4 linked regions of the Homo sapiens genome follow. The protein of the gene in region 3 interacts with the protein of the main gene of each other region in a pairwise test. Each region holds a gene or a part of one and is shown on either strand. Other genes may lie near its edges. The genes, in order: ATPAF2, DDX6, PAK5 and PDLIM7.

The links.
Region 1: the proteins of PAK5 (region 3) and ATPAF2 interact in binary tests that used the Homo sapiens proteins (3 or more experiments, as listed by UniProt).
Region 2: the proteins of PAK5 (region 3) and DDX6 interact in a two-hybrid assay, tested with the Homo sapiens proteins (one large-scale study listed by BioGRID and IntAct).
Region 4: the proteins of PAK5 (region 3) and PDLIM7 interact in a two-hybrid assay, tested with the Homo sapiens proteins (2 studies listed by BioGRID and IntAct).

Annotation. Positions count from the first base shown.
Region 1 is NC_000017.11:18,022,169-18,025,739, reverse strand, and holds part of ATPAF2 (ATP synthase mitochondrial F1 complex assembly factor 2), read left to right. Parts: intron 1-1,035; coding exon 1,036-1,116; intron 1,117-3,571. UniProt on the Homo sapiens protein: Plays a role in the assembly of the F1 component of the mitochondrial ATP synthase (ATPase).
Region 2 is NC_000011.10:118,747,225-118,750,246, forward strand, and holds the end of DDX6 (probable ATP-dependent RNA helicase DDX6), read right to left. Parts: 3' UTR 539-3,022; downstream 1-538.
Region 3 is NC_000020.11:9,539,417-9,542,090, forward strand, and holds part of PAK5 (serine/threonine-protein kinase PAK 5), read right to left. Parts: intron 202-2,674; coding exon 46-201; 3' UTR 1-45.
Region 4 is NC_000005.10:177,494,778-177,498,816, forward strand, and holds the start of PDLIM7 (PDZ and LIM domain protein 7), read right to left. Parts: upstream 2,828-4,039; 5' UTR 2,751-2,827; intron 1,747-2,750; 5' UTR 1,736-1,746; coding exon 1,640-1,735; intron 1-1,639. UniProt on the Homo sapiens protein: May function as a scaffold on which the coordinated assembly of proteins can occur. May play a role as an adapter that, via its PDZ domain, localizes LIM-binding proteins to actin filaments of both skeletal muscle and nonmuscle tissues.

The sequences.
Region 1 (3,571 bases), on a different chromosome or scaffold from region 3:
GACCCATAGCTAGTGGGAACGCCCACTCCATTTATATTAGGGTTCACTTGATTGCAGGGAGCAGAAACCCATTCAACCTAGCTCAGACAAAAAGGGGATTCTTGAAAACTATACAGGGATCCTGACAGGAAATGAAGGACAGTTGGGTCACCAGGAAAGGTAGCTGGAAGATCCAATGTCAGAGCTCCTCCCTGTGCCCTACTAGGGTGAGAGGAAGGTGAGGGAGGAAAGGCTGGTTGTCCATCTGCCCCTCCCAGCACCCCAGCTTTTCCTGCATAACTCATGACCTCTCTTCCCCACTTTGCTTACACAAGACAGTGGATTTCCATAGTGCCCACTTGGATTCCCATCCCATGAGGCCCTGCAGCTCAGCTCCTCTCAACTGGCTCATGTCTGTGTCTCTTGGTCAAACAAATGGCACAGCCTGACCTCTAGCTTGGTCCCATCAGGTCTGGCATCTGTGCCAGCAGCTGCATCTGTAGCCAGGAGGTGGGTGGACTTATGAGGTATAAACAGGCTATTTGGTCTGTGACCAGGGGCACAGTCTCTTGGAGGGGGTGAGGGTAGAGATGCAAAGACTGAGCATCTGGCACAGCATTCCCATTCAGCATCTGGGTCAAGCGGGTGTGGACCCAGGGTTGCAGTTAGTAGATTGGATCTGCTTTAGGATGGCAGTAACAGTGTGGCAAGCTTGGACCTGTCAAATATTTGGGGGCATTTAGGGTAGTGGTTCTCAAACTCAAGCTTACACTAGAATCCCCTAGAGGGCTTGTTAAAACAGATTGCTGGGCCCCCCTCCAGAGGTTCTGATTTCTGTAGGCATGCAACCTGAGAATGTGTATTTCTAACAAGTTCCCAGGCGATGCTGGTGCCAGGGCCACACTTTGAGAACCACTGCTTTAGGGGAAAAGACTTGTGGGGCTGGGATGGTGGTGGTGAAGTTTTTGCTGTTGTCCTTTGTGTTTTTCCTTTTCTATCACTGAATGAAGGAATTGTACTTTTTTATTAATGAAGGTTATTTTTACAATGAATTAGCTACAGGGTGGAGGAGCCCGAGACATTAGTGGAACTTCAAAGGAATGAGTGGGATCCAATCATCGAATGGGCTGAGAAAAGGTAAGATGTACAGCCCTGCAGAAAGCACTGACTGGGCACCTGCGTTTGGTGGAGTGTAGGGGTCAGGGGGTCACGCTGGAAAACTAGTGCCCTTAGCTAGTCAGCTTTCTGATTTCAGAGCACTCGTGGGATTTGGCTCCCCTCATATGATCAGGGATAGGGTCATCCTGGGAAAAAAGCACCTCAAATTTAATTTCAGCCACTAGGTACAGCACACCTGCTGTAGCGGTTCATGAAGTGTAGGGGCAGCTCTGTGTCCTTGGAGAAGCAGTGGAGTTCCCAGGCCACCTTCTGCCAGCGGGTCAGAGCAGCAGTGTCGGTTTGAATCCCAGCTCTGCTGAAGACTCAGCTGTGTGACTTGGCTAATGAGTTGATCTCTCTGAGCTTCAATTTTCTTGTCTATAAATGGGGCTAATAATCCCTACCTCTCAGGGTTTGAGGAGGAATAAATGAATTGATGCATGTAAAGGCTTAGCATCCTGCTTATTAGCACACAGTAAATGTTCAAATTTTGGCAGTGATTTTAATCTTTGTCACAATTGCTGTACTATTAAATAAAATAACAGAACAACATATACGATATGTATGCACTTGGAGAAAAGTCTGGATAGCTTCCTGCAAAATTACGGGTAACATCCAATGGATATGTAGCTTCCAGGAATTGATATGAAATATTTTTCTTTAATAGGAAGACTCTTGAGTGCAAAGTTGAATGGATTATTGATGTGGTGGCAAAATAAATTCAATTTCATTTGATCCCAAGGGAAATTTGGAAGGGCTGGCTTTCATGGTACTACCTTGACTGTGGTATTTTCTAAGCTTGCAAGGCACATTTCTTGGTATAGCAGTTTTCCACAAAAGTGATGTTACCAATCAGTTCACTGATTTGCCACATGCTGCCCGATGCTCACAATGTGGCAGGTGTCCTTGGGTCTTAAAAGAGAAGGCAAAGGCAGTGCTCTAAAGACCAGACTACAATACTATGTGGGAATGTGACAAAACAGTGTCATTTCAGAATCTAATGAAATGTAATAATAATTTAGGTGCCTAGAGATCTTTGCTATAGTATAAAATCATCAGATTCTTGTGGCAGGAAATACCTCATCCTTAAGAGTTTATAGAAAAACTTAGCCATTTCTTACAGTCCATTTGTACTATTAGGAATTTCAGCAAGGATTTTTTATTTTTTCTTTCTTGAGATGGAGTCTCGCTCTGTCGCCCAGGCTGGAGTGCAGTGATGCGATCTTGGCTCACTGTAACCTCCACCTCTTGGGTTTAAACGATTCTCGTGCCTCAGCCTCTCAAGTAGCTGGGATTACAGGCGCCCACCACGCCCAGCTAATTTTTGTGTTTTTAGTAGAGATGGGGTTTCACCATGTTGGCCAGGCTGGTCTCGAACTCCTGACCTCAAGTGATTGCCCACCTCATTCTCCTGAAGTGCTGGGATTATAGGTGTGAGCCACTGCACCCAGCAGGATTTTTTTTTTTTTTTTTTTGAAAGGAGTCTCGCTCTGTCACCCAGGCTGGAGTGCAGTGGCGTGATCTCAGCTCACTGCAAGCTCCGCCTCCCAGGTTTTATGCCATTTTCCTGCCTCAGCCTCCCAAGTAGCTGGGACTACAGGCATGCACCATCTACACCCGGCTAATTTTTTTTGTATTTTTAGTAGAGACGGCGTCTCACCGTGTTAGCCAGGATGGTCTCAATCTCCTGACCTCGTGATCCGCCCGCCTCGGCCTCCCAAAGTGCTGGGATTACAGGCATGAGCCACCGCGCCCGGCCCCAGCCGGATTTTTTTAAGCAACAGAAAAAAATCAGTGATATATGGAAGAAAATTACAAAAATTATTTTTATCCCCCATTGTGTTTTTCTGTTTTATTTAGTTATGATTATTCTTGAAAATGTATCTTCTCAGCCAGGCGCAGAGGTCAGGAGGCGGAGGTCGCAGTGAGCCGAGATCATGCCACTGCACTTCAGCCTGGGGTAGAAAGCAAGAAAGACTTCATCTCAAAAAAAAAAAAAAAAAAAAAAGTTTGAAAAAATGACTGCTGACTGGTCATGGTGGCTCATGGCTGTAATCCCAACACTTTGGGAGGCTGAGGTTGGCAGATCGCGTGAGTCCAGGCGTTTGAGACCAGCTCGAGCAACATGGTGAAACTCTGTCTCTACAAAAAAAATTAGCTAGGTGTGGTGGCACATGCCTGTAGTCCCAGCTACTTGGGAGACTGAGGTGGGAGGATCGCTTGAGCCTAGGAGGTCAAGGCTGCAGTGAGTCAAGATCATGCCAGCGCACTCCAGCTTGAGTGACAGAGCGAGACCCTGTCTCAATAAAAAAGAAAACCTCCATGATATATGACATAAACATTATTTTAAGGAAAACCATTTTAAATATTGTTTTTAACTTTTATATGTCCTCAAATGTGAAAAACTTTAAAGAGATGTAAAAGGCAGATGGCC
Region 2 (3,022 bases), on a different chromosome or scaffold from region 3:
TTGGTCTGCAGTTGACTAAATGTGCAGACGTAAAACCCAGATACAGGGGACTGACTCTATTTTCTTAGTTATACTTAAGCATTTCTTTGGGTAGAGAGGTAGTGAGAGTGATGTGCTCAACTTTAAGTGTCTGCTTTTCCCAACTTTTATTTCCCAATCTTTTATTTCATCAGTGGTTTGTAGTTCTCAGCATATGAATTCCATTCATACTGTTAAGATGTAGTATGCCTTGGTTTTGGGGGTATGTTCAGCTTTACATTTGAGAACAATTGTAGGAGGTGGTAATTACTGATGTATTTGGACATATTATGGACCACATCTCCCCTCTTCCCAACCGATTATCTTGGTTCTCCATTTAGGCTGTGAAATCTGACAGCATGGTGGAACAGTATCTACAACAGATGAAGGGGCTCTGAATTCAACTGGGCTTCACAGGAATGATGGGTTGAGAAATGTCTGTTTCACAGTATGAATTACCTGAGCAAAATGCTCAGATTCCTATGCACACAGCTGCTACTAAGGACATACCACACACACATTTGGAGTTCCAGTGGGCTTTTATTGAGATAAATTAACAAAAACCAAGATTTTACCATATTTTTGGAACCTTATAAACTCAGCAGACTCCGGTCCATATATGCGTACATACAACATAACACATCCCAACAAAAACAGAGCCCCCCCCCCCCCCACTGGAACATCTGCCAATTAAGAGAAAGCCAATTTTCCCTTCCCCCAATGTTTCTGAAATTTTGAGTTCCCACTGTTCACTTCTCAGTGGAACTGGTCCCTTGTGGCTAGGGACATTGGAATTCTCTACCATTTTTACTGAACAAAAAATAATTTTTTTTCCTGTTTCAAAAAAGGGAATAGTGACTTTGTTTTCTCCAGGCTCCCCTTCCCACACAACCAATGTAAAATACAGCAGCCTGTATCTTAATAACCCAGCCCTACCCCCTCCCTTACCCAGCATTGTCTACTGGAGAATTTAAATACACTTCTGTTGGAATCTGTCAGCTGTGGATGGGCAGAGTCCAGGTGCCAGGCTAGCTCCCTCTGACCTCATGAACTGTGACAACCTTTGGACACTTAACTCTTTACCCCAAAGATGAGTTTTTAGATCAGAAAGGAGAGCAGATTTTCTTTGGGAGTTTTAAAAAACTATCTTTAGATTTAGAGATACAAAGTACAACTACAATCTCACAGAAGTCCACTAAAGTTCACCAAAAAGCTGACTTACTTCAGCTCTCATGAGGCCAATAATTTTGATAAAGGTATCTGGCAGGAAAATGATTCCACAATAACAAATTTAAAGATACCTAGAACATTGAAAAAAATAGCAAATTAAAATAAATGGCTTAATTTCCAAGAACTTATTTCATTTTTTTGTTACTCATCTAGAAGGTCAGGAGTGTGGCTAAAGGCAGTTTCTGATGAGGTTATGAGCTTCCAAAGTGTTTCTAAATCCTTAGTGCAGACACCCTCCCTTCTGGGGCAAAGTACCCTCCCTCCCACCCCTATTAAAAAAAAAAATTAAAAAATTAAACCACGTCATCAGAATGAGATGTTTTGATTCCAACAATTTATACTCAAGGCTTTGTGCTGAGTTGTCGTTTGAACCAAGCATGATGTTATCAAGCACAAAGCACGTGGCAAAGGAAAGATGCTCCCATCTCATTCTGAAAACAAATACTGATAACCAAGCCCACCCTCCAACCCTTTGGGGCCAACCCATTTTATGCTGCTGGGACCAACTTCAAACAATTTAGAGGTATATTTAGGTTTCCCTCTCTCTTACTTCTGTGAAAGATCATTTTAGAATAAATGTATTCCATTCCTATGGGAGAGGCAAAACAGTATTTATCCCCATCAGAATATATGGGGAAAGAAAAAACATAGGCCTAGAGGTGGTAAGGTGTGTAACAGTCCATAGCCCATTACACAACTGTACAACCAAAGGCTAAATGATGAGTTGGATGTAGTTTTAATATTAAAAATAGAGGGTAGTTCTCATCCAAATGAGCCACTGGAAAATATTATCATTACTTAAAAAAATACATATTTAATATTGGAAAGAATGTGAAAACAACTTCCAATAGTAACAATGCTTATTATGAGGGCCCAAAAAAGAAAGAAAAAAAAAAAAAAAAAAAAAAAGACCAGGCTTTGACCTAGTCCTCAGAGCATCTTTCCATTTAACAATTCCTATTCAAGAGTCAAGCACCAAAACTGGACAGCTGCCTCTACAAGACCGTGTCCAGTAGTGGTGTCCCAGATAGTTTAAGTGCCACTCCTCATTAGAGGCTATACTTCAGTAATACTTTCCATTTTAAGTCTGTGCTTTAAGAGGGACCCACAGGCATGTGGCACCACGCAGTCTAAAGTTGGTGAAGGAGACTGCACTTTTTGTTTAGTCACCCACACGTTCTCTAGCGAGATACAGAATTGCATTTATACTCTTTTCTTCTACATGAATGATCCCTCTTATCTCGCAAGAGGTGGGGGAGAAAGAGAGCTGCATCGGTACAAGGGCACAATTTTTTTGGTCAAAAGTTGACACCTTTTAAATTCCCTCTCCCACCCCTCCCTGGAAAAAAGTTACTTCCTTAATTAGGTTTTCTATTTAGTAACCAACATTGACTGGACAGAAAATATGAGGCTTGGGTTCCAAATAGATGAGCTTGTTCTTTTTTGGGTTTGTACCGTGCAGTTCTTGCTACAGTTGTTAAGGAGTTAGGGCTATGTCCCATCAGGAGGCATCTGTAGGATTTTGATCTCCAAGGAATTGTGGGTGAGTCGCAAATAGTTTGCTCAGAAGTAGGCAGAGTCAAAAAAGCAACTTCAAGTAATTGATTCCTTTGTCCAAAAGAGTTAAAACATTAAAGTATATGCGGGACTTATTTTGTAATATTTTAGGGTTTTGAAAAATAAAATATGGAAATCAATTTTTTTTAATTTTGTTTTTTGCTTTTTTCCCCCCCTTTCCAGATGCCTCCTGATTGACCTAGTACACTGGGTTAAA
Region 3 (2,674 bases):
TTCTCATGTCCTCATCTAGCTTTGCCACCTACACGAATCCTCTGCTCAGTGATGCCTGTATTGTCTCATGAGGGGGACGATGCAAGACGGTGGACCTGCTAGTTTTAAGAATGGATGTCCGAGGAGTTCCTGGGCTGTTGCTCTCTGAGAGGGCTCCCTCACCAACATCAAGTCTAGGAATCCCCGGAGCACTGAAGAAACCTGTGAAAACACACAGATACCAATCTGAGGACTAACACAGACACCTAACCCAGTCCCCAAAATGTTTTCCCCATTCATCCTATCAACAACTTCAAATTCCAGAAAGTTACCTTAAGGAGAAAGATGTTGTGAAAGCAAAAGCATGTCTTGTCTTTGTTAACATTTCGTGTTTTCCTTACCTTTTTCAAGTGTGAAATAATAGGTGTAAATGACAGCTCAACTAAGAATGAAAACTTATTTACTACATAAAATAACAGTGGCAATCACAGTGATAAGAGCAGCTATTACAAAATATTTAGTATGTGCAGGTGCTGGTCACACGTGCTTGATGAAGCATAGTATAAACAGGGAGCCGTTTTATTTTTCTAACAACTGCAACCACACAGGCTCTGTGGAACCCCTTTCTTTAAGAGAAACAAGCTTCTGTAAGGATATCGAACACATCTCATTTTTTTCTTTGAAGGTCTTGTAATTTTCCTTTTAAAGGTATATCTTACTTTATGTATATATTTAGAGATGAGGTCTCACTATGTTGCCCAGGCTCAAACTCCTGTGCTCAAATGATCCTCCCACCTCAGCCTCCTGAGTAGCTGGGAGTACAAGCATGTGCCAGCATGCCCAGGTTCCGCTGCACAAATACTAAGAGTGTGGCTCAATGGATTTTTACATACATTTACCCCTATTTACTTTCCACTCCTATCAAGATATAGAACTTTTCTACCACTCTAGGAAGCTACTTTTAGGTTTCCTTCCTGCCAACCCCTATCTCCCTGCAAAAGGTCACCACTATTTTAATTTATAGCATAACTTAGTTTTGCTTACTTTTGTACTTTACCAAAATGGAGTCATATATTTGATTTCTTCTCTATCTGGCTTCTTTCACTCAGTGTTGTATCTGTGAGATTCATCTCCGACGTGTGGCAAAAGTTATATCTTTTAAATTACTGTGTAGTATTCACTGTCCAATTATACCACACATTATCCATTTGGGAAACAACCTCGGACTGGTTTCCAGTTTTTTTGAAACCATTAGGATTAAAGTTGTTCTTGTACATGGTTTTGAAGAACATTGGCACTCACTGGGTGTGAGACTACTTTCATATGATACATTTTTAGTCACTTTTTTTTTTTTTTTTGGAGACGTAGTCTCGCTGTGTCACCTAGGCTGGAGTGCAGTGGTGCGATCTGGGCTCACTGCAAGCTCTGCCTCCCAGGTTCACGCCATTCTCCTGCCTCAGCCTCCTGAGTAGCTGGGACTACAGGCACCCGCCACCATGCTTGGCTAATTTTTTGTATTTTTAGTGGAGATGGGGTTTCACCGTGTTAGCCAGGATGGTCTCCATCTCCTGACCTCGTGATCCGCCCACCTCGGCCTTCCAGAGTGCTGGGATTACAGGCGTGAGCCACCACACCCAGCCACTTTTCATTATTTAGACTTAGTCCAATCCAGTAAAAATTTCAATCTCTCTTTTTTTGTTTATGTTTTTGTAGGTCCACACAACCTATATGAGTGATGCTACTGGGGCTGTTCCCTAAGATTTAGGGGTGAGGAAGGAGGAGATATTACCATTACAAATAATTCTCCTCCAAAAGGCAGCCACACACTCTCTTTTATTGTCATAAGATAGGAAGAGAGGTGTGTATGGGGCCAGTGTTTATAGTAGTAGTCCTGCAGAAATGATCCTCTGAGCAAGTCCTTTGGAAATCTGGCAGCTCCTACAGTGGTGATTCTTGGATGAAGCATCATTATTTTCTGAGCTCGTCCTAATTGGCAATCCTTGGAAAACAGAAAAGACCCCACTCGGTCTCTTACATGCATTATATTAACCATGACCTTCATTGCCCTGTACAATCTAGCTCCTGCCCATCTCTCTGACAAGACCTACCTTTTTCCCCTTTCTGACTTTACTCCAGCAATGTAAGCCTTCTTTCTTGGCTTAAGGCCTTTCCACTTGATGCTCCCCGTGCCTGGGACCTTTTTCTCCAAGATCTTTGCATGGCTGGTACCTTCTTCCTATTCAGGTCCCAGCTCGTTTGATCCCTCCCTAGAAAGGGCTTCCTTCACTCTTCAGCTTAAATCAGTGATAGGGTTTGGCTCTCTGTGCCCACTCAAATCTCACCTCATATTGTAATCCTCACATGTCAAGGGAGGGACTTGGTGGAAGGTAATTGGGTCATGGGGGCAGTTTACCCCATGTTATTCTCAAGATAGTGAGGGAATTATCATGAGAGCTGATAGTTTTATAAGTGTCTGGCATTTCCCCTGTGCGCTCTCTCTCTCCTGCCACCATGTAAGACATGCCTTGCTTCCCCTTCGCCTTCTGCCATGATTGTAAGTATCCTGAGGCCTCTCCAGGCATGTGGAACTGTGAGTTAATTAAACCTTCTTTATTTGTAAATTACTCAGTCTTGGGTATTTCTTTATAGTAGTGTAAAAACAGACTCATACAACCAGCTTTCAATCCCTTCTCCT
Region 4 (4,039 bases), on a different chromosome or scaffold from region 3:
GGGGTGAGTCAGCCTGAGCAGCCCAGCCCCCCAGTCCCAGACGTTACCTCATCTCCCAGGCCTGGGCCCACAGCCAGCCCTTGCCCCTCCCACCTCCCTCCATTCTGGGGTCAGGGGAGGGGGAGGGGGCTGGCCTAACTCAGAAAAGCCCACCTCACCCACCCATGTGGGCCCAGGTCCAACTCCAGGGCTGGGATCAGCTAGTGGCCCCGCCCACATGCCAGGGATGCTGACCAGGGAGCTGGAGCCCGGAGTGCCCCCAACAGGCCATATCTGAAAGTCATCTCCATCAGGGAAGAAACTGAGGTTCAGGCTCCCCAGACACACTGGGCCAGCACTTTCCCAGGGAGCAGGACGTCAGGTAGGTTTCAGGGCTGTGTGAGGGCTATGTAGTGGGACGTGTGTCATAGGGCAACCACTGCCTCACTACCCTGCTGGCGGGGCAGGTTCCAGGAGAATGCCATCAAAGGACCCCTGAGAAGAGCACTGCTGGCCTGCCCACCCTAACCCCCACGCCCAGCTCCTACAGACAGACTCCAGCTTGAGCCCCTCCTCAGGCCACGACCCTCTGGGCCCCTCCAGGCTGGGCTTGCCTTGGGCTTCCTGACAACAGCTGCCTGCCCACCCGGCGCCTGGGTGGGTCTCTTGGGGCAGGCGGATATAGGGGCAGGAAGTCCCCACCCCCTCCTGACCCCCAGGCCAGTCAGAGATGCCAGCCGACAGGCTGGCCTCACCCACTCTGGGCAGGCAATTTGTTGTGTCTCACAACTGGACCATATAGCTGGAGCTGCAGCCTGGTGACCAGCTGAGAGGCCCACCAGTGGGGTTCAGGGGGCCAGGCCTAGGCCAGCCCTTTTCAGCTCTGCAGACCGCAGCCACTGTTGGCCATCCCAGCGTGGGGCTGCATTCTTGGGCTTATAAGGCAATCCCCCTGCTACAGGGAGGAGCCAGCCTCCAGCTCCACCCACACCAGGGCAGGCTCTTGGAAGCTGAAGTTAAGCCCCTAGAATGGAGCCCTGTCCTACACTTCTGCTTGGGGTCAAAGGCCACCACATCCTGAATGGGAACAGTGGATGTGGGTCCTTACATAGGCTGGGGAGAGACCCCTTCTACCCACAAAAAATGTACGCCATGCTGTGCCTCAATTCCAATCCCTGCTTCACCATGGACTCGATGAGCGAGCCCCGCCACCTCTCCATGAGTTCTTCTCTCATCTGGAAAAACGGGATGAGGATTGCTATTCCCTGGGCGGCAGTGAGGCTGAAGTGAAATCCTATAGTCACAGTGTCCTGCCTGGGGCCTGGCTCCAAGCATTGCCACCTCAAGTTTAGATACCTCCTGAAATGTTAGGCTCCCATCCTGCACAATGAGCCTCCCTCCAGCCCTCAGAGGTGGCCACAGGAGCTTGGGAGAACAGCATCGGGTACAGTGCAGGGCTGGAGAAGCCTGGGTGCTCCCTCCCAGTATCCACCTCATTGGGAGTCCTTGTGGCAGGCAGGTACCACTACATCTCCGGACCTAGACATCTCCTGGCCTGCTGGCCCCTGACCAGCTCCTGTTAGGACTCCCCCCATCACCCTCTGGAGACCTAAGCACCGAAAGACCGCTGGGGGAGCCCCCTCCCCAAACCTAGGCTCACCCGGGAAATGGAGAGGGGCACATTGAAGTCCTTGCCCCCTTGCAGCCGGAAGCCCCAAGGTGCTGGCCCCTCCAGCACTACTTTGAAGGAATCCATGATGCCGGCTCCTGAGAGGAGAGAAGAGAAGGTGAGTGGCCAGCATGGTGGGCGGGCAGGCAGGCAGGCCGGGCCAGCTCAGGATACCAGCCTTGGACAGGGGCCAGGCAGGCACGGGCAGCCCCTGAGCACGCCCAAGCCATAGGAGGCAGGTATTTTGTCAGGCTGGCCTGGGCTGCTGGCTGGCGGACCTCACTTTGGAAAGACAGGAGCAGCCCCCCTCCCCTTGGGACTGGAACGGTGAGGGGTGCCTGAATCCAGGCTTGAGGTTCTTTGCAACCAGGGGTGGGCCGAGGGACTAAACTGGCGCGGCCTCCCCCCAAGCCAGCCTGGAGCCTCGGGCGGCCGGGTGAGTCAGGGGCCGGCTCTCCTCTCCCCCGCCCCCAGGTCCCGGCAGGCAGGCCGCGGCTGGAGCCTGCTCGGACTATATAAGGCGTGTAAGCTGACACTGTGCGGAGAGCCAGCGGAGGGAGCACACGGGGGCTTGGGACGCGAGGGGGGGGGGAGGGGAGGGGAGGGGAGGGGAGGGGAGGGAGGCGGCTGCAGCGGATCCTCCTAGCCATTCCGGGACCAGTCGAGGCTGCTGGGAGCCAGGGCGGGACCCCTGGGTGCTGAAGAAGGGGAAGGCGGGAGTGGGGTGCGGCCCCTGTGGAGACAGATGGGGGCTGGGACCCTCAAGCATAGCTTGGAGGGGGATCCTTCCCCGAGCCCAGTGGGGGGTGGTGCCTCCCACACAGAACTGCTCCCACACCGACGTGACTCAGTTTCCCCTTAGTCCCCCGCCCGGGCCCCATGCATTAGACTGGCCCCGGCCGCAGGAAGCGGCGCAGGCGCCAATCGGCCCCGCCGCAGCCGGCTTAGCGGCAGGAAGGCGGGGGCGGGGGCGGAGGCAGGGGCCAGGGCCAGCGGGAGGAAGCACAGCCTGGACCACGACCCCCAGTGCCCTTTGTGGTCCTCAGCAGGCCCCGGGCGCCCGCCTGGTGCAGCCCAAGACGCCCCGCGCGGTCGTCGATACCTGCTTGGCCCGGCCAGGGCGCTGCTCTGCGTCGGGCTCCAGGGAGCCTCGTTGGGATCGGCCGCCAGTGTTCTGACCCCGCCCCCACAGCCACCCTCCACTTTGAGCGCGCGGACGGGGGCGGGGCACCAGGCCACGCCCTCGTCGCGACCACGCCCACTAGACTTTCTCCGCTGGTGGAAAGCCCCACCCAGCTCTTCCGTCCTGCCCAATCACCAAGTCCCGTCGGGCTTAGAGCTGAGAGGCCTCGCCGACCCGGGCCCTGCAACGGGGCGGAGTCGGGAGGGGGCCGGGGCTGCGGGTCGCCTCCTTAGGGAAGCGCTGCCTCGCCCAGTCCCTCGCACCGCCCGCTGGCGGAGGGAGAGGAAAGCGGACCTTCAAACCAGACCGACCTGGGACATAGTAGTCTCTGAACCTTAGTTTGCTACTCCGAAAAATGGGACGATCATACTCGCCTCGCAGGGCTGCCGCGAGTGTCGGTATCGTAGGCGCAACCCTCGGGGACTGCAGAATCTGTAAATCAGAGGGGCTGGGGGAGACAAGTTGAGGGGGACAGGGGCGTTTAAAGCTAGAGTTGCGCAACGCTCTGCCGAAGGCAGGAAAACAGGGCAGGAGCGGACGCCGGATGTCCCTGCAACCCCGAGCCGACCCGCGCACCGTCGGAAGCGCCGCGTCCCGCTCCACCTTGGCCAGAGCGGACTGCGCCGCCTGGGAGGCGTCCTCAGAGTCCCGGCCCCGCGTTCAGCCCAGGCACTAGGGCCGGCGGCACGGACACTGAGCACATGCGGGTGTCGGGGTGAGGGAAGGGGCGTCCACCCTCCACTCGCTTGGTGGTCCCGGCCCATCACCTCCTCCTAGGACAGAGTCGCTGCAGTTCTCCCCTCTCCATCCACAGTCATCACACCCACCCTGTTCTGCACAAACCGCCGTGAGAGTTCTCGTCGTTAAAGACCTTCTCTTGACCCCACATCCCTCTCCAGCTACTACCCTTTAATTCTCCTCTCGAGAGTAAAATTCCTCCAGGGAGTTGTCTGTTTATCGCGTCTCCACTTGCTTTCCTTCAGTTATCTCTTGAAGCCATGCCAGGCGGGCTCTTGTCCGCACCCGTCCCCTGAGATCTCTCTTCTCAAGGTCCCCTGTGGCCTGGAGGCCATGGGGCCATGGAATCCGTGGTGGTTAAGTTTCATCCTGCCCTGCCTAGGGGCAGCACTGGTCCAGGTTGATCCTTTTCCGCGAAACACCCTTTTTCCCTGGCTTCACAGCTTCCCCCTGCCCCACTGGCCCCTCCT